3 separate regions of the Homo sapiens genome follow, and regions 1 and 3 are each linked to region 2. Evidence: fine-mapped expression QTL. A gene starts in region 2. Each other region holds a variant in brackets. All regions are shown on one strand. Distances are between the middles of the regions. Region 1 overlaps LLGL2 (LLGL scribble cell polarity complex component 2). Region 2 holds the start of LLGL2 (LLGL scribble cell polarity complex component 2). Region 3 overlaps LLGL2 (LLGL scribble cell polarity complex component 2).

The links. PIP is the estimated chance that this variant, and not a neighbour inherited with it, causes the effect.
Region 1: its variant is fine-mapped to the expression of LLGL2 in whole blood (TOPMed, PIP above 0.99).
Region 3: its variant is fine-mapped to the expression of LLGL2 in monocytes (Schmiedel 2018, PIP 0.95).

Annotation. Positions count from the first base shown.
Region 1 is chr17:75,556,150-75,564,315 of GRCh38, forward strand. It overlaps LLGL2 (LLGL scribble cell polarity complex component 2), which reads left to right. Exons shown (of 26, transcript NM_001031803.2): 4 at 2,006-2,087; 5 at 2,363-2,478; 6 at 3,103-3,261; 7 at 6,867-7,029; 8 at 7,182-7,314; 9 at 7,603-7,657. Among named protein-coding and RNA genes, the nearest start is that of MYO15B, 28 kb to the right of the region's middle. RefSeq lists enhancers at 770-1,706, 1,707-2,642 and a silencer at 6,039-6,333. The variant A/ACT (reference allele first, on the strand shown) is at 5,061.
Region 2 is chr17:75,521,433-75,529,603 of GRCh38, forward strand. It overlaps LLGL2 (LLGL scribble cell polarity complex component 2), which reads left to right and starts at 4,265. Exons shown (of 26, transcript NM_001031803.2): 1 at 4,265-4,393. TSEN54 (tRNA splicing endonuclease subunit 54) reads left to right here. Exons shown (of 11, transcript NM_207346.3): 7 at 1-78; 8 at 273-901; 9 at 1,843-1,903; 10 at 2,231-2,347; 11 at 2,830-3,303. The coding sequence ends at 2,980. RefSeq lists silencers at 3,631-3,730, 3,751-4,470, 3,787-3,971.
Region 3 is chr17:75,571,350-75,579,520 of GRCh38, forward strand. It overlaps LLGL2 (LLGL scribble cell polarity complex component 2), which reads left to right. Exons shown (of 26, transcript NM_001031803.2): 18 at 318-434; 19 at 549-715; 20 at 1,665-1,929; 21 at 2,132-2,282; 22 at 2,603-2,631; 23 at 2,864-2,911; 24 at 3,104-3,146; 25 at 3,261-3,319; 26 at 3,522-3,860. The coding sequence ends at 3,529. Among named protein-coding and RNA genes, the nearest start is that of MYO15B, 12 kb to the right of the region's middle. RefSeq lists an enhancer at 21-190. The variant G/A (reference allele first, on the strand shown) is at 3,344.

The sequences.
Region 1 (8,166 bases), 35 kb after region 2:
TCCGTCCCCTCGCTCCCACTCGGGCAGGGCCTTGGGGTGGGTGAGATTTGGGGAGGGACATCTTTTCCTTCCTTGCCCGTGGGCTGTTGGGATAAAATGAGGGACTTTCCTGATTTCCAGTTTTGGACATGATTTTATTCCAAAATGGGGCAGGTATGGTTGATGGTGGAGCAGGCACCTGGGCATGAGTGCATCCCTGGTGGGATGCGACCCTGTCCTTTGCAGGAGGACAGTGAGGTTTGAAATGGACTGAGGAGATACAGGCTTATTTTGTCTCCTGTGTCCTTTCAGGACCCTTCATGTGGTCTGCTCCCTTTACTCAGTTTCCCCTCTCACCTATTCCTGGAGGTTTCAGGAATCCCCCAGTCCCGGGCAGGGGGTGAGGCTGCTGGGGGGCTCAGAGACCTGTTTTGCAGGGGTTGTATTGGTGGATCCAGAGGGAAGGACCTGACGCCCATGTCTCAGCCAGTGATCATTCAGTGAGTGGCTGGCTGGTGCGCCAGTAGCAAGGCCTAGGCCCTTCTGTGCCCCTGCCTCCCTCAGCTCCCCACCTCACCACCAGAAAAGCAAGTTACAGGGACCCCTCTTGTCGCTAGGGATGTTTTTAATTTAAAAAAATTTTTTTCGGCACTTTGGGAGGCTGAGGCGGGCAGATCACTTGAGGTCAGGAGTTCAAGGCCAGCCTGGTCAATGTGGTAAAACCCTGTCTCTACTAAAAATATTTTAAAAGTTATCAGGGCGTGGTGGCACATGCCTGTAATCCCAGCTACTTGGGAGGCTGAGATGGGAGAATCGTTTGAACCTGGGAGGCAGAGGTTGCAGTGAGCCAAGATTGTGCCACTGCACTCCAGCCTGGGCAACAGAGTGAGACTCTGTCTCAAAAACTTTTTTTTTTTTTTTTTTTTTTTTTGTGGAGACAGGGTCTTGTGATCTTGCCCAGCCTGGTCTTGAACTCCTGGGCTCAAGCAACTCTCTCGCCTTGGCCTCTCAAAATGCTAGGGTTACAGGCATGAGTCACTGCACTCCCAGCCTGCAGTTTTGTTTTTTAACCTATCTCGATAAGAATCAGAGGTGGACTGGCCCCAGGGCCCTATCCACAAGCAGAGATGGGGTGGCCTTGGGCCAGGAGAGCAGGGCTCGGCAGCTGTCTTCCAAATTCCACCCCCACTCCCACAGGCGGCAGAGAGTGGAGAGGGCTCTGCCTGGCAGGGACAGTCCTTCCCCGGCCTGAGGCTGGATGTTGTCCAGTTGGGTCATCTTTTATCCAGAGCACTGGTTCTGGCCGACTGGGGGCTCCCAGTGTTTTCAGAGATGAAAAACCGGATCAGGTTGGGCACCCCGCCAGTCTGATCTGTGCTCCCCTCAGGGCAGGGCCCAAGGGAGTTGAGAGATGAGGGACCACCTCCAATAGCTTGGCTGCCACCTCCAGCGGAGCCTGACCTCCCTCTTCCCCTCTGCCCGGTGTGGGGGAGGGGTATGGAGCACTCGAGTTCCAGGCTGGGCTGGTGTACACAGGGGGCCAGGGCCTTGCTGCGGGCTCAGCCTTCCCTCGGCTGGTTAATCATTGCCAGGCCACAGCCAGACTCTAGTTACCAATCCCTGGTGCCAAGACTAATGGGCCAAGGCTGTTGGTGATAGGCCCCCTGGGGTGCCGTGTGTTTTTTCACAGGTGCTACCAAGCGACAGCCAACATGTCTTTTGCAGCTCAGGATCAGGGTGGCAGCCTGACAGTTGCCAGGGTAGGGCTTCGCCTTTCTATGGAGTTGCTCCCACCGGCCTGACTGGGAAAAATCTCCCAGGGATCAGGTCACTGGCCTGGTGCCCCAGGGCCAGGGCTGCTGTGTCTCCTCCCCACCCTAGGCTCCATGCATGGGTCCTGCTGCCTCGGGGGAGGGCAGCCCCTCTCTGTGTTTGCATCATTGCACATGGGCCCCGAGGGCCTGGCACTCAAGGCAGGCAGGGGATGGTGTCCGACCTTCCAGAGCTTTCCTGAGCCTACTCCTAGCTACGGAGCCCCAGGCGTGGAGTTCATGGGGCTGCACCAGGAGAACAACGCTGTGACGCAGATCCACCTCCTGCCCGGCCAGGTGAGGGACCTGGGGTGGGACAGGAAGCCACTTCCATGCCCTCCTTGCCTTCACTGCTTCCAGCAGGGCTGGTGTGGAGAGGCTGGCATTCGGTGGCCCTGGGTTTGCTGCTGATGGAAAGACCTGGGACCCCCTCCCTTTCCACAGCTGGGGCTCATGGGCCACCCTGGGAGTGGCCAGGGGGTCTTTTAAACAACTGGGGCTGCGTGGCCCCAGTGTGTAAAGGCCTTGCCTGGGTAGCAAGACCACATGATCCCGTCGTGTGCCCTCGCCAGTGCCAGCTGGTCACCCTGCTGGATGACAACAGCCTGCACCTTTGGAGCCTGAAGGTCAAGGGCGGGGCATCGGAGCTGCAGGAGGATGAGAGCTTCACACTGCGTGGACCCCCAGGGTAAGGGCTCAATCCCCAGCCCCTTCCACTCCCAGCCCAGCCTGACCCTTGCCCTTAGCTCTGGAGTGGACTCACCCTTTGTGAGGCCTGTTGCGCCCCTGGCAGTGACTGGCATGCGTTTGGCCCGATGCATCGCCACACTCAGGTGCTCCGAGTGGAGTGGGCGGGGCTGCAGCCTGCCTCCTCCATCCACACCACGCCTCCTCCATCCGCACCCCACCTCCTCCATCCGCACCCCGCCTCCTCCATCCGCACCCCACCTCCTCCATCCACACCACGCCTCCTCCATCCGCACCCCACCTCCTCCATCCGCACCCCGCCTCCTCCATCCGCACCCCGCCTCCTCCATCCGCACCCCGCCTCCTCCATCTGCACCCCGCCTCCTCCATCCGCACCCCGTGTTATGCTGGAGGGTCCCTGGCGTCTTTCCTGCCTCCTAGCCCAGGCTCTCTGCCATCTGTCTCCTGTCTTGGCAGAAAGTGACCAATGTTTGTCCTGGCTTGAAATGTTATGACCTCATTAAAGGGCCTTATGGGCTTGTTTTCCGAGGAGTCAGGGGACCCCGTCCATGGCATCTCCCCTGCTGGGCAGTGGTCGGCTCACGGGCAGCTGTTCTTGTCACAGGGCTGCCCCCAGTGCCACACAGATCACCGTGGTCCTGCCACATTCCTCCTGCGAGCTGCTCTACCTGGGCACCGAGAGTGGCAACGTGTTTGTGGTGCAGCTGCCAGCTTTTCGTGCGCTGGAGGACCGGACCATCAGCTCGGACGCGGTGCTGCAGCGGTGAGCCCAGAGCCCAGCTGCTGTTAACTCCATCCCCTCAAGTTAGGCATGGCTTCTCCCCTTGGTCCCAGGACTCTGTCAGGAGCTGTCATTTCTCTGCTGGGAATTCCATGGGGCTATAGCAGGGGAGGCTCTTGGCTTCCTACCTGTCACCTACTGAGAACCTATTGGCCTGTCATAGGTTAGCATCATAGCACTAAAAAGGGGGCTTTGAGGGTCCCTCGTCTAAAGGCCCCAAATGACTGTGTAATGTCACCGACTGTCAGTCCAGTGTCCTTTGCACTTGCCATGGGTTTCAGAACCCCAGGGGCTCCGCAGCGGGGAAGTCGGGCCCAGACCTCCCTGTGTCACTGGGGCAGCTCCTGGTGCCACCCTTTGCGGTGGGTACTTTGCTGAGGTTCCATTTGCTCGCAAGCTCCGTGGCTAAAAAGCCTTGACCGCCACAGGCATGTGGGTCTGTTGAGATCGTTTCAGAAGCTTTGCTCCTTGTTGATGATACTACATTAGAGAGGGAGTTGGATCAGGTCCGGGTGGGAGAAGGGGACGGGGCCCAAAAAAAGAGAGGAGATAGCATCTGACAAGATCATGTTGGGGCCGGGTCGGTCATGGTGGAATGATCTGTGGTTCCAAGGGGCAGGAGGAGGCCAGGGTGCTGGGCCCCTGGCCCTGCAAGGCTTTGGACTGGGCCTGGGACACACTCCTGCAGCTGGCCAGCCCAGCTCTCCAGCCCTGGGTGGTGATGAAGCAGGGCCCGTCTGCCCAGGGCAGGGCATGACTGGGCTGGGAGGATTCCCACTTGGAGCTGTGTCCCTCTGAGTGCAGACCTCTGCCTTTCCCGTTCAGCAGGGTAGGGCTGGGGCAGTGTGTCCAAGGTCAGAGCAGAACACTTTGCAGGATGACAGGTACCACAGTGGGACACAGCCTGTGGGCAGGACGGCATGGGACCTGCGCCCCAGCAGGTGGCCACACCAGTGCCCAGCCTCACCCTGTAGTTAGCTGGCGGGAATCTAGTCGGCGGGGGGGCCCAAGTGCCCTGAGAGCCCCTCCTGCCAGTTTATTTATATTATATTATATTATATTTTATTTCATTTTTGAGATGGAGTTTCACTCTTGTTCCCCAGGCTAGAGTGCAATGGCACGATCTTGGCTCACTGCAACCTCTGCTTCCTGGGTTCAAGCTATTCTCCTGCCTCAGCCTCCCGAGTAGCTGGGATTACAGGCATGCGCTACCACACCCAGCTAATTTTGTATTTTTAGTAGAGACAGGGTTTCTCCATGGTGGTCAAACTAGTCTCGAACTCCCGACCTCAGGTGATTGACCCGCCTCAGCCTCCCAGAGTGCTGGGATTACAGGCATGAGCCACAGCGCCTGGCCCAGTTTGTTTATTTATTAAAAAAAAAAAAAAAAAAAAAAAAAAAAAACAAAGAAAAAACATTTTTTTTGAGAGAGTCTTACTCTGTCCCAGGCCGAAGTGCAGTGGCAAGATCTCAGCTCACTGCAACCTCTGCTTCCTGGGTTCAAGTGATTCTCCTGCCTCAGCCTTCCGAGTAGCTGGGATTACAGGTGCACGCCATCACACCCGGCTTATTTTTGTATTTTTAGTAGAGACGGGGTTTCACCATGTTGGCCAGGCTGGTCTTGAACTCCTGACCTCAGGTGATCCACCCACCTCGGTCTCCCAAAGTGCTGGGATTACAGGTGTGAGCCACCAGGCCCAGCCCCTTTTGGCAGTTTAAATTCTCGTCCTCTTGATGACACTTATCTAAGTTTTTAAAACGTGCAACCCTTTAGTCTCATA[A/ACT]CTGTCTCTGAGAAGTCTCTGTCCTAAAGATATAGGATAAGAATGATCATTGTAGGGCTGTTTTTAATGGCAAAAAGTTGGAAGCCCTCTAATTGTCTAACAATTTTCATCTGTGTAAGGACATTATTTGCATTTATTAAGAATATCTAGATGGACACAGTTGCTCACACTTTGGGAGGCTGAGGTAGGAGGATTGCTTGAGGCCAGGAATTTGAGACTAGCCTGGGCAACATAGCAAGACCCTGTCTCTCCTCACAAAAAATAAAAATTAGTTGGGCAAGGCGGCACACGTCTGCAGTCTCAGCTACTTGGGAGGTGGGAGGATCACTTGAGCCCAGGAGTTGGAGGCTGCAGTGAGCCATGATCAGGTCACTACCCTCCAGCCTGGGTGACAGAATGAGATCCTGTCTCTAAAAAGATTAAAAATTAGGCCGGGCGCGGTGGCTCACGCCTGTGATCCCAGCACTTTGGGAGGCGGAGGCGGGTGGATCACCTGAGATCAGGAGTTCGAGACCAGCTTGGGCAACATGGCGAAACCCCGTCTCTACTAAAAGTATAAAAAATTAGCCTGGCATGGTTGTGGGTGCCTGTAATCCCTGATACTCGGGAGGCTGAGCAGGGAGAATTGCTTGAACCCCGGAGGTGGAGGTTGTGGTGAGCCGAGGTCACACCACTGCACTCCAGCCTGGGCAACAGAGCGAGACTCCCATCTCAAAAAAAAAAAATTAAATATTGAATATTAAAGTCCCCTTCAACTCTCACTCTTGATTCAAATTCTAATGTCAGTGAGGTCAGTGCTAGCAGTAGATGTGCCAGATATAGATAATGTGGAGAGCTTGGGTTTAGTGTGGCTTGGGTCCAGGCTGGGTCCACTTCCCACATCCTTGCTGTTGGCTGTTGGTCCTGTGCCTGCTGCCTTGTGGTTTTTTTGTTGGCTGCAACACCTCCAGCCCTCACGGCAGCATTCCAGGCCTGGAGACGGGGCAGGGGTCAAGGCTCCAGGGCCAGGCCAACTCACACAGAGTTTTGTTTTATGGGGCTAAAAAACTTCTTTATTATTAAACACTCCCTTTTGCAAAAATGCACTGAATATGAATGTACAGTTTAACAGATTCTTGTAGAGCATCCTTGCAGCCTTCCTGCCGGGCATAGAAATAGAACTTTGATGCCCTCCGGAGGTCTTATGCACCCTTCCTAGTCAAGGCTCCCTCTTGCCCCCACATTGACTTTTCCAGAAGTCACTGCCTTGCCTTGCCTTATAATTGTACCGCCTGTGTTTACATCACTGGAGGTTGTGTCCATGTCTCTGTCTTGTTCTACATGCTGCCCTTCTCCCCTTGGTGACATGTCCTAGCCATCTTTCTTTCTTTTTTTTTGGAAATGGAGTCTCACTCTGTCACCCAGGCTGGAGTGCAGTGGCACGATCTCGGCTCACTGCAACCTCCGCCTCCTGGGTTCAAGCAATTCTCCCGCCTCCGCCTCCCAAGTAGCTGGGGTTATAGCCATGTGCCACCACGCCCAGCTAATGTTTTATATTTTTAGTAGAGACAGGGTTTTGCCATGTTGGCCAGGCTGCTCTCAAACTCCTGACCTCAAGTGGCCTGCCCACCTTGGGCTCCCAAAGTGCTGGGATTACAGGCATGAGCCACCACGCTCGGCCATCCACTGCGCCCAGCCCCTAGCCATATTTCTATGCTGGCACATGGAGCAGCCACCTCTGCATAGGGAGCCCCATGGCTGTGCCATGCTGGGGGCCATTCCCCCTGGTGGACGGCATCGGAGGCTCACGGCACTCCCCTCGCCCAGGTTGCCAGAGGAGGCCCGCCACCGGCGTGTGTTCGAGATGGTGGAGGCACTGCAGGAGCACCCTCGAGACCCCAACCAGATCCTGATCGGCTACAGCCGAGGCCTCGTTGTCATCTGGGACCTACAGGGCAGCCGCGTGCTCTACCACTTCCTCAGCAGCCAGGTAGGCAGTGCCCAGGACATGGCAGGCGCCATGTTGCTCTCCCAGGGCCCCAAGTGGCACATACACACTGTGCAGAGGCATGGGGTGCAGGCGATGGGAACGCCGCCTCGGTCCAGCGTGCTGCCCTCTGTCCCTCTCCTCTTCCTCCATAGCAACTGGAGAACATCTGGTGGCAGCGGGACGGCCGCCTGCTCGTCAGCTGTCACTCTGACGGCAGCTACTGCCAGTGGCCCGTGTCCAGCGAAGCCCAGCAACCAGAGCCCCTCCGCAGCCTCGTGCCTTACGGTCAGTGTTTCACCCGCCGGGCAGGGCCCACCCCCAGTGCCTCCTGGATTCAGGTGCAGGTTGCTCAATTCTGAAGCAAACTCCAGGGCCAGAGAGGGTAAAGGCTTTGTCCAAAGCCACACAGCAGGGTTCGCCTCACCCAGTTTCTTGGGGAACTTCTCGGAGCAAGATTCCCAAGCACAGGTCTACCATGTGGATGTGGCATGAGCTAGAGGGATCTGTGCCTGTGGGGACTGACACTTGTCTGAGAGTTTGAGGATCCGTTCAAGCCGATTCCTTTCCTTTCAGGTCCCTTTCCTTGCAAAGCGATTACCAGAATCCTCTGGCTGACCACTAGGCAGGGGTAGGTATCCATGCTGGTCCTCTTTCCTCTCCAGAGCCTTCCTGGAGGGCTAGAAAGGTCACTTAGGCCTCTGCCTGGGAAGTTGGTGCCAGTGAACACTCTCAGGTCCCGTGTTGGGGTCTTGGACACCAGGGAGGGGAGACAGGGTAGACGCTATTCACGTCTCTCAGCGGCCCAATTCCTGCCAAGTTCATTCTTGCTCCTTTCTTCCACCTTCCCAGAGAGACGGTACTGAGCAGCAGGTCTTAAACTCCTTTAGTTGGCAGCCCTGTTTCTTCAGACAAAATCACTCTGGGTGATGTTCAAACAGAATTGGTGGGGGCACCCAGCATGAGGCAGGAGTGGCTGCTGAGACTCAGAGCCCCCAGCCTGGATGCCCTCACCTTACCTCCAAGTCCTCCTGGGCTGTAGCAGTTGGAAGGAGATGGGGTCCAGTCTCCCCTGCTCCTGGGGACCTTGACTGAGTGGTGACTTTGATTGCCGGCCTGTGGCTGTTGAGGCTGTGCCAG
Region 2 (8,171 bases):
GCAGCTTAACCTGGATGCCAGCGTGCAGCACTTGGAGGATGGAGATGGCAAGAGAAAGAGGAGCAGCTCCAGCCCTCGGTAACTCCCACATCACGGTGGCCCCCCAGGGAGTGCTGGTGTCTGGGACCTTGGAAAATGCACAGGCTTTCTAAGAACCAGCAGCTCCCATGCAGGCTCAGGGAGACACTAGGGGACCTGCCTTCAGCTCCCATGGGACGTGTGCACCTTAGCAACCAGGGGCAGATGTGCTGCTTTTCCCCCACGTCCCTCAGGTCCATTAATAAGAAGGCCAAGGCCCTGGACAACTCCCTGCAACCCAAGAGTCTGGCAGCCTCCAGCCCACCTCCCTGCAGCCAGCCCAGCCAATGCCCAGAGGAGAAACCCCAGGAGTCAAGCCCCATGAAGGGCCCAGGGGGCCCCTTTCAGCTTCTGGGGTCCCTGGGCCCCAGCCCTGGCCCGGCCAGGGAGGGGGTGGGGTGCAGCTGGGAGAGTGGCAGAGCCGAGAACGGAGTCACGGGAGCCGGTAAGCGGCGCTGGAACTTCGAGCAGATCTCCTTCCCCAACATGGCTTCAGACAGCCGCCACACCCTTCTGCGCGCCCCAGCCCCAGAGCTGCTCCCGGCCAACGTGGCTGGGCGGGAGACAGACGCTGAGTCCTGGTGCCAGAAGCTGAACCAGCGCAAGGAGAAGCTCTCCAGGCGGGAACGGGAGCACCACGCGGAGGCCGCGCAGTTCCAGGAAGATGTCAACGCCGATCCCGAGGTGCAGCGGTGCTCCAGCTGGCGGGAGTACAAGGAGCTGCTGCAGCGGCGGCAGGTGCAGAGGAGCCAGCGCCGGGCCCCTCACCTGTGGGGCCAGCCCGTCACCCCGCTGCTGAGTCCTGGCCAGGCCAGCTCCCCAGGTACCCCCTCAGCCTGCCACATCTTCGAGGGCCACTGGCAGCTGAGGAATCACAGGACTTTGGAAAGGGCATGGATGAACTGGGATGGATTGAGGCTTAAGGAAGATGTGGGAGGAGGGAGTGGACCCACAAGCACGGTCAGTTCTCCGGCGGCTGCAGCAGGGCCTGTGTGGGAAGGCTTAGAGATGGTGAGTCAGGAGAGGTAAGGAGGGGTGGAAACTATGACCATATCCTTAAAAAGATAAACAACATGCATGTGGATGGCTTTGCCACCAACTAGCTGTGATCCCAACCTGTTAGATGGGAAAAGGAGGTGCCTTCTTGGCCAAGTGAAAGAAAGGCTTGCTGTCTGCTCTAAGCCCAGGGAACCAATGGGGAAAGAATAAGCTAAATGTGTTAACGGATTCCAAATTACTTAAAGCCTTTATGGGAACACGGTAGATTGTAGGTAACTAGATAGGGTTGCCAGATCAGTTTGATTTGACTTTCAGTATAATTTTTCAGTATATGTTCCAAAAATTGCATGGGATATGCTTATACTAAAAAAAAAAAAAAAATGTTGCTAGGCTGGACACGGTGGCTCATACCCGTAATCCCAGCACTTTGGGAGGCCGAGGCGGGCAGATCACCTGAGGTCAGGAGTTCGAGACCAACCTGGGCAACATGGTGAAACCATCTCTACTAAAAATACAAAAATTAGCCGGGTGTGGTGGTGCACACTTATAATCCCAGCTACTCAGGAGGCTGAGACAGGAGAATTGCTTGAACCTGGGAGGCAGAGGTCACAGTGAGCCAAGATCACGCCACTATACTCCAGCCTGGGTGACAGAGTGAGACTCCGTTTAAAAAAAAAAGTTGCTAAATCTGGCCGTCCTAAACTAGATGGCAGACTGAGAAATGTGACTCCCCTCCCCAGTACCTTGTTTTCTGTGTCCTTGTAGCCGTGGTCCTTCAGCATATCTCTGTGCTGCAGACAACACACCTTCCTGATGGAGGTGCCCGGTAAGTTTCCAAGCAGTGCCGTCTCTGCAGTACCTTGACCGCCAGGAGTTGGTGGTTAGGAACTGGCTCCTGAAGTAGGGTGTAAACTAGAGGACTGTTCCAGGGACTCCTACCCCTACGCCTAGCTCTGAGCAATAACTAGTGTTCGTGTGTGTCTAGGGAAGAGGGAGAATAACCAGTGGGTTAGCCCAAGGGTTCAGAGCCCCCAACCCTCAAGTGGCACCTCTGTGAGGCTGCTTCCTGGAACTGGTGGAGGGAAAGGGTGGGATGGAAAAGAAAGGTTGGGGAGAAGAGTTCATGTCATAACGTTTCTCATTGTATTGTCAGGCTGTTGGAGAAGTCTGGGGGCTTGGAAATCATCTTTGATGTTTACCAGGCCGACGCTGTGGCCACATTCCGAAAGAATAACCCTGGCAAACCCTATGCCCGGATGTGCATTAGTGGGTACGCAGTGAGCCAGCACTGCCCCTCCCCCAGCTGCTGCCAGTTCTCCTGTGAACCAAGTGGGACTCCTCTGTACTCCCCTGGCCAGCGTGCCAATCTCTGAGAGGAACAGGAGGTCCAGAGAGGCTAAGTGACCTACACAAGGCCACACAGCCAGTTTGTGCTGCCCTACTCTGAGCTCCTCGTTGCTGGCATTTTAGGGTAGTCTTTCTCCAATGCCATTTTAGTCTAGGACTCACCCAGCAGAAGGGATGTGGATTGTGGGGATTTACAGGCTAAGAGTGGTGAGCACCTTGCTCTTCCTAGCACCTCCCCAACCAGTGCTCTGGGGCGCTCTTCATCAGAGCCCTGTGTTTTGGAGACAGAACTCATGGGTCAGAATTCTTGCACCCCAACTCCTTCCGTAGAATCTCTTCTCTGGGAGCCCTAGAGCTTAGGAGTGGGCTATGGCTGGGTCTCACTCTAACCCTTTGTCCCTGCAGATTTGATGAGCCTGTCCCAGACCTCTGCAGCCTCAAGCGGTTGTCTTACCAGAGTGGGGATGTCCCTCTGATCTTTGCCCTGGTGGATCATGGTGACATCTCCTTCTACAGCTTCAGGGACTTCACGTTGCCCCAGGATGTGGGGCACTGACCTCACAGCTCTGCAGAGGATGGAGCTTGCTCCGGGGGACCGGGACTGTCTGTTCTCAGGGACCATCTCGGCTGCCTCCTGTACCCAGACTCTAACCTGTAGCTTCAGAGGCCAGTCTGGGCCTTGGCCCTGGGTGTCTGATACTCACAGAGTGAAACTGTGACCCTCTCCCTTCCCTGCTGCCTTGCAGTGACCCCTCTGGAACTCAGGACTCGATTTTAAGGACCCAGGAGGTGGGGCAGAAGAGAGGACTGTGTGCCTTTAACGAGAGGGTGCCTGCTTCGTGCTATAAAGCCAAAGCCATTAAAAATAGATTTCTTTTCTGCTGTTTCTGTATGTACTGGGTAAACCCCTCTCGCCCCCGTCCCGTTGTCAGTGGAACTGCCCCCAGCCCCTCACCCCTGCTTTGCCCACTCAAGGAGATCCGCTTCCTCTGGTGCGGGATCTAAGAGTGAGAGAAGCCCGCGGGATAGCAGGAACGCGACCTCGAACCTTTTGAGCCTTTCCCGGGCCTGCGTCGGAGGGGATGGGACGTCGCAGGCTTCCCGAAGGGAGGAGGGAGGACGGCGCGCCATCGGCCCTTCCCTGGGCGCAGCGGGGTGCGGGTGGCGAGAGGCGCCACCTGCAGCTGGGCGGTGGAGCGCGCTGCAGCCCCGGCCTCCGCGCCCTTTCCGCTCCCGCCTCTCGTCGCTCCAACCTCCTCCCTCGCTTGTGCTAAAAATTCCACCCGCTGTTGCAGACCCTCCGGCCGACACGGAGGAGGTGGGCGCCCCCCCGCACCCCCCCCCGAGGAAAGGCGTCTCGCCGCGACGCCCCGGTCCCTACACCATCCCTCTCGTGGGGCTGGAAACCCGGCCCTGCGTCCCCCGGTCACCCTCTCTGGGCTGGGCTCTGGCAGAGGAGCTGGCCCGGATCCGCCCCTCCCTCGGCAGCTCCCGGGAGTTGGAGGGACGGCTCCCCTGGAGTCTGGGAGGCGGCCCGGGACCGCAGGCGTTCCGGGAACTATTTCCGCTTGCGGGAGGCGGCGGGACACTGGGCGCGGCGCGCCGTTCTGCGTCCAGGTGCGCGCAGGTGAGGCCGGGGCGGGCCTGCGGAACCCCGAGGCCGTTCGCGAGGCCCCGCCCCGCGCTTCCCGGGGCCGCGGATTGGCAGGAGCGCAGCCCCCACCCCCGAGGGTGCCCCCGCCCCTGCGGCGCCGAGCTGGGGGGCGGGCCGGGGGCGGGGCGCTGGGCCCCGGCAGGCTCGCCCTTTATGTAAATAGCGCGGCTCCGCCCCAGGCTCGCCGCGCCGGAGGTGAGCAGGAAGGAGACGGCCGCCCAGCAGCCCGTGGGCAGGCGCGGCGGAGCGAGCGGGGCCGGCGGCGGGCGCCGAGGGACGCCGAGGCCTCGGGCGGGGGCTGGCCCGGGGTTCCAGGTGAGATGCGTGCCGGACTCGCCCAGCCGGGCCCGCCCCCTCGGGGCTTCCACCTGGGGCGGGGAGGCCAGGGAGGCCCAGGACCCCTGGGCTGTCGGGCCAGGGCGGGAGGGCTGCGCCCAGGTCCGCGCGCCTCGCCCCTGTCCGCGTCGCTGTGCTGGCCTGGAAGAGAGACACCTGTAGAAAGTTCTGCGGGAAACTTCTCTGCCTGATCTGCGCGATGACTGAAACTTGGGCTTGGGTTTGCACAATAATGTTGGCTTAGGAGAGCAGGAGAACAGGTGCCCCGGCCGGCTGGGTGCGGGGGGCACCGCGGGCAGAGACGGAGTCCCCGGGCCCACGTGCAGGCGCCAGGCCAGCGGGGTTGGCGACGCGCGTCTGCGGTGACCCCCTCCCCACGGGCGGCGGCCGGAGCGCGGTGCCCCGGCGGCTTAGCCCCTGCCCCTGCCATCTGGGCTGTGTCCCTGCCGGCCCTTTGTGCCTCCTAATCCCCGGACGCAGGAAGCCCGCGGGAGGGACTTCGGTCTCCGGCCTTTCTCCAGCTGGGGCGGCTTTGGACACCTTCACATGACAGTGCGGAGACCCAGTCTGCCCTCCATGCTGACGGGCGGGGTTTGCGCTGTGGGATTTGGCGAGAAGTGGAAAATTCTATCTTGCCAAAGAAAGTGTGTCTTAGTTTGTTCCGGCTGGACGATTGGTGGACACGCTGGGCCTTGGCTGTGGGGAGAACTGACCTAACCAGGGGAGCTGTAGAGTGGCGCTTTGAGGCTCTCACCTGAACAGGTGAGCTTTGAGTGAGGAGGGCGCCCCTTCCCCTGGGGATCCGTATGCGACTGCCGGCAGCCTTAACCTGGGCTCCAGGGACCCCCTGCTGGAGTTTGTAGTTCAAGAGAACCTTGAGTTCTCTTGAAGGGGCTACAGAGAGGATTCTGAGCAGGGAGCGGGCAGGGAGGGAATGGGTGTGTCAAGGTGACAAGGAAACGCTGGTAGGAAGAGCAGAGCTGCCACAGAAGAGCTGTGGCCCAGCCCGGGGGAAGCCAAGGTCAGAAGTGGCAGTTGAGGCTGGGTGCATTGGCTCACAGCTGTAATCCCAGCACTTTGGGAAGCCAAGGCAGGAGGATCGCCTGAGCCCAGGAGTTTGAGACCAGCCTGGGCAACATAGTGAGACCTCGTCTCTGCAAATAATAAAAAAAGTTAGCCAGGCATGGTGGCGTGCACCTGTAGTCCCAGCTACTCAGGAGCCTGAGGTGGGAGGATTGCCTGAGCCCAGGAGGTGGAGGTTGCAGTGAGTCATGATGGCGCCACCACACTCCAGCCTGGGGACAGAGTGAGACCCTGTCTCAAAAAAAAAAAAAAAAAGTGGCATTTGAGGAAAACTGTCTGGGTCTGTGTGAGCAGAGGCACAAGGAGAACTGTGCGAGAGATGTCTCAGCTTTATTTTATGAACTGGGATTTGGGGTTTAGTTTTCTTAGGCGATCTTCCCACAGTGCTAGCTGTGGCAGACAGAACTCAAACTCAGCTCTTAAGCTTCTAATCAGAGTTCACTCCTTTCCTCTGAAGTTAGACTGGGCCCATCTTTGTGGGGGCTCCTGGACAGGGTTTCCGGGGTCCAGGGTCATTTGGCATCCCCATTCTTCCTTGAGGCAAGGGAGTTTCCCCTTTGGTGTCAGATTAATATGCTTTTAATTATATTAAAATGACACTACATTCATAAATAAGAAATAAAATAGAAAAAAGTAACTTTTTTCTCTTTTTTTTTCTTTTTTTTAAACTAAGTTGACCAAATTCTTTTTTTCTTTAATAATATGTTTTTTAATTTGTAGAGATGGGATCTCACCATATGTTGCCCAGGCTGGTCTCAAACTCCTGGACTCAAGTGACCCTCACACTTCAGCCTCCCAAAGCGTTGGGATTACAGGTGTAAGCCACTGTGCCCAGCTGTTAGTAACTTTTTTTTTTTCTTTTTTTGAGGCAGAGTCTTGCTCTGTCACCCAGGCTGGAGTGCAGTGGTGCAATCACTGGGAGATGGAGGCTCACTGCAGACTCGACCTCCCAGGCTCAAGTGATCCTCCCACCTCAGCCTTCTGAGTAGCTGGGACTACAAGCGCGCAGCACCATGCACAGCTAATTTTCTATTTTTTTTTTAGAAAGGGGGTTTTGCCATGTTGCCCAGGCTAGTCTTGAACTCCTGGGCTCAAGTGATCCTCCTGCCTCCCAAAGTGTTAGGATTACAGGCATGAACTGCCACGCCAGACCCGTTAGTATAAATAACTTTTTATTATTTTTATTTATTTATTTATTTATTTTGAGACAGAGTCTCGCTCTGTCACCCAGGCTGGAGTGCAGTGGCGAGATCTCGGCTCACTGCAAGCTCCTCCTCCTGGGTTCACGCCATTCTCCTGCCTCGGCCTCCCGAGTAGCTGGGACCACAGGCGCCTGCCATCACGCCCGGCTAATTTTTTGTATTTTTAGTAGAGATGGGGTTTCACTGTGTTAGCCAAGATGGTCTCGATCTCCTGACCTCGTGATCTGCCCCTCTCAGCCTCCCAAAGTGCTGGGATTACAGGCGTAAGCCACCGCGCCCGGCCTTAAATAACTTTTTAATATACCGCAACATTAAAAGAAAAAAAGGCCAGGCGTGGTGGCTTACACCTGTAATCTCAGCACTTTGGGAGGCCAAGTTGGGCCGATCGCCTGAGGTCAGGAGTTTGAGAGCAGCCTCACCAACATGGAGATACCCTGTCTCTATTAAACATATAAAATCAGCTGGCCATGGTGGCACATGCCTGTAATCCCAGCTACTCAGGAGGCTGAAGCAGGAGAATCGCTTGAACCTGGGAGGTGGAGGTTGCGGTGAGCCAAGATCACGCCATTGCACTCCAGCCTGAGCAACAAGAGCAAAACTCCATCTCAAAACAAACAAACAAACAAAAAATGGCCCATAATCCCAGGTGATCGCTGTTCATTTAAAAAATAGAAAAGGCAATAGGAGCCCATAGTGGGAAAAAGGAAACATTGTAGAAAGTGTAAAATTAGAGAGCAAAAAATTAGGCCGGGCAAGGTGGCTTATGCCTGTAATCCCAACACTTTGGGAGGCGGAAGCAGGCGGATCACAAGGTCAGGAGTTCGAGACTAGCCTTGCCCACACAGTGAAACCGGTCTCTACTTAAAAATGCAAAATTAGCCAGGCGTGGTGGTGAGCGCCTGTAATCCCAGCTACTCAGGAGGCTGAGGCAGGAGAATCGCTTGAACCCAGGAGGCAGAGGTTGCAGTGAGCCGAGATCGTGCGATTGCACTCCAGCCTGGGCAATAGAGTGAGACTGTCTCAAAAAAAAAGAGAGCAAAAAATTATCCCTCCTGCCTGACAGTCCTTTTCTTTTTTTTTCTTTGAGACGAAGTCTCCTCTGTCGCCCAGGATGGAGCACAGTGGCGTGATCTCAGCTCACTGCAACCTCTGCCTCCCAGGTTCAAGCAGTTCTCCTGCCTCAGCATCCTGAGTAGCTGGGATTGCAGGCAGGCACCACCAGGCCCAGCTAATTTTTGTATTTTTGTATTTTTTGTAGAGACAGGGTTTCATCATGTTGGCCAGGCTGGTCTTGAACTCCTGACTTCAAGTGATCTGCCTGCCTCAGCCTCTCAAAGTGCTGGGATTACAGGCATGAGCCACTGCACCCGGCCCCTGCCAGTCCTTTTATCTTCATCCTTCATCCTTCTATCCTTCATCTCTTTAAAAACAAAAAATAAAAAAAAATTAGGCCGGGCTCTGTGTCTCACGCC
Region 3 (8,171 bases), 50 kb after region 2:
AGCCTTTCAGGGCCTCAGCTTGCTTCTCTGTAAATGAGGAAGTGACAGCTTCCTCCTAGAGCAGCTGTGACGATCGGGGACAGCAGAGCCTGCTGGTCTCCAGATGACGTGTCTCTCCCTGGCTGGTTCTCCCCTGCTGTATCACAGCAAGGGCTGAGCTGACCTGGGATTGGGGTCTTCTATGTTGGGGCCTGTGTGGTTGTCAGAGAGCCTTCCAGCCTCTCCCAGGAGGGAAAACCTGGGAGTAAACCCTGGTTGCCCAGCTCCACCCGACTCCCACGCTAAGGGTCAGACACCCAAACATGGCTTCTCGGCAGGCTCCCGGCACTGCCCCTCGCTGTGGGCTGGCACCAATGGGGGCACCATCTATGCCTTCTCCCTGCGTGTGCCTCCCGCCGAGCGGAGAATGGATGAGCCTGTGCGGGCAGAGCAGGGTGAGTGCTGGGCAGGGAGAGCAGAGGGTGCTCGGGCTGCCTGGGCTGGGTCCAGGGAGTGGCTCCAGCCCTGCCACCCCCTCACCAGCCCCAACACCCACCTCCTCCCCCTAGCCAAGGAGATCCAGCTGATGCACCGGGCGCCGGTGGTGGGCATCCTGGTGCTCGACGGACACAGCGTACCCCTTCCCGAGCCCCTCGAAGTGGCCCATGATCTGTCGAAGAGCCCTGACATGCAGGGAAGCCACCAGCTGCTCGTCGTATCAGAGGAGCAGTTCAAGGTGCCACACGGGCAGCGGCGGGTCTCCCTGGGACTCCCCGGGACATCCAGGAGGCTCGGACCTTGGGCAAAAATGATGGCTGGGACTCAGTCTTGTTTGCAGTTGGTGTCTGAGGGGCTGCAGAAGTACAGGAAATAAGTGAGGGGGGAGTCTCGTGTGAGGACACTGAGGCAGGACAGGGGGCCAGGCGCGGTGACTCATGCCTGTAATGCCAGCACTTTGGGAGGCCAGATCACAAGGGCAGGAGTTCGAGATCAGCCTGGCCAATATGGTGAAACCCTGACTACTAAAAATACAAAAAAAAATAGCCCGGCATGGGCCAGGCGCGGTGGCTCATGCCTGTAATCCCAGCACTTTGGGAGGCCGAGGCGGGCAGATCACAAGGTCAGGAGATCGAGACCATCCTGGCTAACACGGTGAAACCCCGTCTCTACAAACAAATGCAAAAAAATTAGTTAGGCGTGGTGGCGGGCACCTGTAGTCCCAGCTACTCAGGAGGCTGAGGCAGGAGAATGGCGTGAACCCAGGAGGCGGAGCTTGCAGTGAGCCGAGATTGTGCCACTGCCCTCCAGCCTGGGCGACAGAGCGAGATTCCGTCTCAAAAAAAAAAAAAAAAACCAGCATGGTGGTGGACGCCTGTAATCCCAGCTCTACTCGGGAGGCTGAGGCAGAAGAATTGCCTGAGGCGGAGGTTGCAGTGAGCCGAGATCACACCACTGTACTCCAGCCTGGGCGACAGAGCAAGACTCCATCTCGGAGGAAAAAAAAAAAAATCCAGATAGGGAAGTCGGTGACCTCGGCATCCTCCCAGGCCATGTCTGTGCATCTGAGAGCCAAGGGTTTGTCAGGACACCGGGAGGCATGTGGGGAGGGGAGGGCCCAGCAGCAGCAGCACAGGGCAGGAGAACTGGTTTGGCCATGGGCATGAACAACCACCCCACGCCCCCAGGTGTTCACGCTGCCCAAGGTGAGTGCCAAGCTGAAGTTGAAGCTGACGGCCCTGGAGGGCTCAAGAGTGCGGCGGGTCAGCGTGGCCCACTTCGGCAGTCGTCGAGCCGAGGACTACGGGGAGCACCACCTGGCAGTCCTTACCAACCTGGGCGACATCCAGGTGGTCTCGCTGCCCCTGCTCAAGCCCCAGGTGCGCTACAGCTGCATCCGCCGGGAGGACGTCAGTGGCATCGCCTCCTGCGTCTTCACCAAATATGGCCAAGGTGTTTGAGCCGGGCTGGGTGGGTGTCGGGGCCCCGGGCACTGCACGGACGGGAAGGGTGGCCAGGGGTGTTGTGGCCACGGCCAGACTGGATGGGCCTTAAGCGGAGAACTGCGAGGGAGCACTAGCCCCTACTCCCCCAGGTGGGGAGGCAGCCTTGGCAGCCGCCAGGCCAGGCCGCTAGCATTGCCCCCACTCCCCAGGCTTCTACCTGATCTCACCCTCGGAGTTTGAGCGCTTCTCTCTCTCCACCAAGTGGCTGGTGGAGCCCCGGTGTCTGGTGGATTCAGCAGAAACCAAGAACCACCGCCCTGGTAACGGTGCGGGCCCCAAGAAGGCCCCGAGCCGAGCCAGGTGAGTGAAAGGGCCAGAGGCCTCTCCCGCCCCTCCCGCCCCTCCCTGCCCTCTCTGAGATACCGAGGCTCCCACTGCTGCCTGGCTGGAGGCACCTCCCCACGAGCTCAGCCCACCCTCCCAGGCTCCGGCTCTCCTTGCCTCTTTGCGTGCCCCTTGCCCCTGTGCAAGCTGGCAGTCCAGGGCAGGACTCAGTTTACCTCCCAGGCTCTCCGGCTCAGGACAGGCTGCGCCATTGACTTGTTCTTCATGGGACCAGGGCTCTCAGAGCCGGGCAGGGAGCCCGGGGGCCCTGGTCCTCACTGTCTCTTCCCCCACAGGAACTCAGGGACTCAGAGTGATGGCGAGGGTAAGACAGGCCTCCTGGGCTCATGCACACCTGGGCCACACCCGGCCCAGACCTGGGGCTGGACGGGAGGGAAGGGTCCCGAGTGAGCAGGTAGTGTTTGGGCTGGGAATAGAGACGGCATTCCTTCCAGCCCTGGGCCCTGGGCTTCCACATCCTGACCTCAGTAAGGAGAGAGAGAGCCAGGCCGAGGAGGGCCCAGGCGGGGCGCCCTGACCCGGCCTCTACCTTCCAGAGAAGCAGCCCGGCCTGGTGATGGAGCGCGCTCTGCTCAGTGATGAGAGTGAGTTGGGTGGGAGAGGGTGGGGCTGGCAGGAGGGGTGGGGAAGGGGGGTCAGGGTCAAGGGAGGCTGGGCAGGCCACTGCCCTGAGGCGGGGTACAGATCCATGGGCACCCACGGAGAAAGGGGGTGGAAGGGCTGTGGCTAGCCGCCCCAAGGGCCTCAGTGGGCCTCTGTTCCCACCCGGCCTGCAGGAGTCCTGAAGGAAATCCAGAGCACACTGGAGGGAGACCGCGGGTGAGGCACCGCCCAGGCCAGCTGGGGTGGGCCCGAGGCTCTGCCAGAGGGCTCAGGGGAGCGCTGAGAGTGGAGGTCCCTGAGGCCATGACTCCCCTGTCTTTGCCTGTGCAGGAGCGGCAACTGGCGTTCACATCGAGCCGCCGTGGGGTGCAGCCTCAGCAATGGCGGAGGTGGGGGCTCTGGGCTTGAGTGCA[G/A]CTGCCAACCGTGCTGGGAAGGGCTGGGAGGAAGAGCCCCGGCCCCACTCCCCTGGGTCCCACGGGGCTGACACGTGCCCTGATGACCAGGAAAGCACCATGTCTGGGCTCAGCGTGGGCGGCTGGGGCACCCCGTCCTGCCCAGGGTGATCTTGAGCTGTCCCTCTGTGTCCTTCAGCAGAGTGAGTGGCTGAGCGTCCAGGCTGCGCGATGAGCACACACTACTACTGATGGCCTTTCGGGGGTCCCTGCCCCAACCGGAGAGGCCGGTGCACAGGGCCCCGCCAGGGGCTGGGGGCATCCCGGCTTCCACAATGCAGCTGCTCTGGGCCTCGGGAGAGGAGAGACCCCAGTCCCCTGGGCTGCCCTTCCCGGGCCTCGTCTGTCTGGGTCCTTTGGTCAATGTTGCACAGTTTTTATTGCTCCCATCCCTTTTTGTAGTGGGCTGGGTTTTAAGTTATAAATGTTAACTGCCTCTGGGTGAAAAAGTTTTTAATAAACACCTATTACCTCTTGACTGGTCCACTACTTTAATATTTTAATTGTGTAGAAATTTTCCATGTGAATGGAAAGTGGGAGCCGGTACCCTGCCTGTCCCCCGAGGCTCCAGCCCTGGCCTGGGCCGGTGTCAGGAGAATCCACTTGGGGAGCCGTGTGAATCAAACTGCTTCGTTTTGTCTGAGCCCGGCGGTGCCTTCCCTCTGTGGGAACACATGGCAAGCACGAACCATCTTGAGTCTGCCTGACTTTTTCCCTGGGTCCTGGCCGCCCCTGGCTGGCCTTTCCCTACTGTCAGAAGAAGGACACCCACAATATCTCAGACCTGATGGCTTCCTCCAGACACCAGGGAGGACTGTGGGGTGCTGCTGAAGCGGGGCTGGTACCCAAGGAGAAAGGCCTTCCCCAGGGGAGGGGCTGGGTTATTTAGATTGGACATGGGCTGGATCTTTATTGACTCGTCTTCGTTGAGCACCTACTGTATGGCCAGTGCGTGGGGTTCTCCGGTGTCTGAGACAACTGTGGTTCCTGCCACAGTTGACACTGGTGAGAAATGCACCTGGGGGGTGACCTGAGAGAGAACCAGGAATTGCCAGAGAGTGTGGTAAGCAAGCAGATTGTTCCAGACAGAGGACAAGAGGGCTCACCGCCACTCCAGGAACTCGCTTGCCGTGGGAGGCAGTGGAGAGCGGAAGGTGGCTGGCAGGCAGGGCCGAAAGTGAGGCCAGACTAGGGAGGCCCAGTGAGGGCCAGGTGTGACAGGCGCCTGCTCTGCGTGAGCGAGGAAAGGCCCATCCAGAGGAGCTGGGTACAGGTGTTCCATCTGGCCATGTCCACCTCGAGATGGCCACTTGACCGTCCCTTGTTTCCCCAGGGGAGGGTGCAGAAAGACTTCTGAGATGAGCACCTCGAGAACTATGAGGAATGTAGGGGAGCAGTTCCCCAAAGGGAGAGGAACACCATGCTAGAAGAAGCAGGGAAGGGATGATGCCTGGCAGAGACCAGCCACAGGGGTGGGGGATACCTGGTGAGACACCTGTATCAGTCCCTTCCCATACTGCCATAAAGAACATATGCCATAAAGGTGGCTGGGCGCAGTGGCTCACGCCTGTAATCCCAACACTTTGGGAGGCTGAGGTGGGGCAGATTACTTGAAGTCAGGAGTTCAAAACGAGCCTGGTCAACATGGTGAAACCCTGTCTCTACTAAAAATGCAAAAATTAGCTGGGCGTGGTGGCGCGCGCCTGTAGTCCCAGCACTTTGGGAGGCCAAGGCAGACAGATCACTGGAGGTCAGGAGTTCGAGACCAGCCTGGCCAACATGGTCAAACCCTGTTTCTTCTAAAAATACAAAAATTAGCCGGGCGTGGTGGCGGGCATCTGTAACCCCAGCTACTCAGGAGGCTGAGGTGGGAGAATCACAAACCTGGGAGGCAGAGGTTGCAGTGAGCCAAGATCGCACCACTGCACTCCAGACCGGGCAACAGAACGGGACTCCATCTCAAAAAAAAAAAAGATAATGGTGATGATGCAAGTACCAGTGAATCAGAAAAAAACGGCAGAACCTGCACTTCTGTGGCACAGAGGAGCCTGGTGGCCACAGCACAGGTCTTGCTGATGAAATTGAACAAGAAGTCGAAAACACACAGCCCTGAAAATATCAGGAAGACTCCGAACATGAACTTATTTCCTTGCTGATTAGTGCTGAACTTTGAGCTTTGCTGTAAGTATGCTGTGCTTTGAAGTATTAGCTAATGTCGGTGTGCATATTTCAGTTTAAGGAAACATTCTCGGCCGGGCACGGTGGCTCACGCCTGTAATCGCAGCACTTTGGGAGGCCAAGGCGGGCGGATCACGAAGTCAGGAGATCGAGACCATCCTGGCTAACATGGTGAAACCCCATCTCTACTAAAAATACAAAAAATTAGCCAGGCATAGTGGCGGGCGCCTGTAGTCCCAGCTACTCAGGAGGCTGAGGCAGGACAGTGGGGTGAACCCAGGAGGCAGAGCTTGCAGTGAGCCGAGATCATGCCACCCCACTCCAGCCTGGGCGACAGAGTGAGACTCTGTCTCAAAAAAAAAAAAAAAAAAAGAAAAATATTCCCACTGGGAGTGTGAGATGAACAACAATTTGTATTGATGGGTGTGCAAGATGGAAGGACGTGGCATCTTCCTCTCTAGAAAGTGAACTGGAGGGGCCGGGAGCGGTGGCTCATGCCTGTAATCCCAGCACTTTGGGAGGCCGAGACAGGCGGATCACAAGGTCAGGAGATCAAGACTAGCCTGGACAACATGGTGAAACCCCGTCTCTACTAAAAATACAAAAATTAGCTAGGTGTGGTGGCGTGTGCCTGTAATTCCAGCCACTCGGGAGGCTGAGGCAGGAGAATCTCTTGAATCCGGGAGGCGGAGGCTGCAGTGAGCCGAGATCATGCCACTCCATTCCAGCCTGGGGACAGAGCAAGACTCCGTCTCAAAAAAAAAAAAAAAATGAACTGGAGGAAGCTGGGATCCCCACAGCCATCCAGGGCAAGGCGACGGTGGTAGGGAAATAGAGGCATTGAGGGGTTGGGTTGACAAGGATGGCTGCCAGATGGGAGGAGATGAGTGAGCGTGAGGGCTACCTGTTGCCTCCAAGGGCCAGGGAGGTATACAGCAGGCAACTGGATTTGTGGTCAGGAGATTTATTTTATTTGTTTTTTAGAGACAGGGTGTCACTCTGTCACCTAGACTGGAGTACAGTGGCATGAGATCATGGCTCACTGCAACCTTGACCTCCGAGGCTCAAGCAATCCTCCAGCCTCAGTCATCCAAAGTGCTAGGATTACAGTCATAAGCCACTGAGCCTGGCCACGGAAATTGATTTATTTTAGAGACAGAGTCTTGCTCTGTTGCCCAGGCTGGAGTGCAGTGGTGTGATCATAGCTCACTGTAGCCTGAACTCTTGGGTTGGAGCAAACTTGTAGCTGGGACCACAGGTGGGCGCCACCATGCTCAGCTAATTATTATTTTTTTTCAAGACAGCCTCATTCTGTCGCCCAGGCCAGAGTGCAGTGGCATGATCTCGGCACACTGCAATCACCGCCTCCTAGGTTCAAGCAATTCTCCTGCCTCAGCCTCCCGAGTAGCTAGGATTACAGGCGTTAGCCACCACGCCCAGCTCATTTTTGTATTTTTAGTAGAGACAGGGTTTCACCATGTTGGCCAAGCTGGACTCAAACTCCTGACCTTGTGATCCGCCTGCCTCGGCCTCCCAAAGTGCTGGGATTACAGGCGTGAGCCACCGCGCCTGTCCTACTTTTTTATTTTTAAATTTTTTGTAGAGACAGGGACTCCCTATATTGCCCCAGGCTGGTCTCAAACTCCTGGTCTCAAAGGATACTCCTGCCTCAGCCTCCCAAAGTGCTGGGATCATAGGCATGAGCTGCCACACCCTGCCAGTCTGCAGATTGAGATGTGAGGGTCTTGGGCATTCAAAGTGGTGGAGACCTGGTGTTCATTTAGCATTTGAGGCCAGGCAGATCCAACCCTGTACACTGGCTTTCACGTGACTGGCTGTGTGACCTTGGGTACATGACCTCACTCCCATACCTTGGTTTACTTATCTGTAAAGTGAAGGATAATAATAGGACTTACCTCAGAGGGTTGTAAAGGATTAAATGAGAGCCTGTAAAATCACACAGCACCTGATTCCTAGTAAACACCCAACCCTAGGAGGTGAAAGTTACTGTGGATGGTGGGTGAGGCCAGGAGAGAAGGAGATGGCTCCAGAGGGAGGGAGTGTGGAAGGAAGTCCAGAGAGGGCGCGGCACACAGCCCCAGGGAGGAGCTCACTATACACTGGTGAGCGAAGCAGGCAAAGGAAGTCAGTGGGAAAGTGGGAAGCAGAGGGGAGAGCCAGGCTCGGGGGTGTGGCCTGTCTCCCTGCATGTCAAGATTAGCCAAGCTGTTCCCTGAAGGTTGTTCAAGGTCATAGAGCCAGGAGGGTGGAGCACTGCAGCTGGGATGGGGGACCAAGGCTGTCTGGTTCCAAAGCTGATTCCAGCAGAAGCGCTGCGGAGCTCCACAGTGTGGGTTCAGCAGAAAAGTGGGTATTAAAGGCCAGAGGGCCTGGGCTTGGTCCTCAAGTCCATATTTAGTGGTTATGTGTCCTTAAGCTACTGGGTTTTTTTTTTTAGACAGTCTCGCTCTGTCGCCCAGGCTGGAGTGCAGTGGCAGTGATTTTGGCTCCCTGCCACCTACGTCTCCCGGGTTCAAGCGATTCTCCTGCCTCAGCCTTCTGAGTAGCTGGGACTACAGGTGCATGCCACCATGCCTAGCTAATTTTTGTA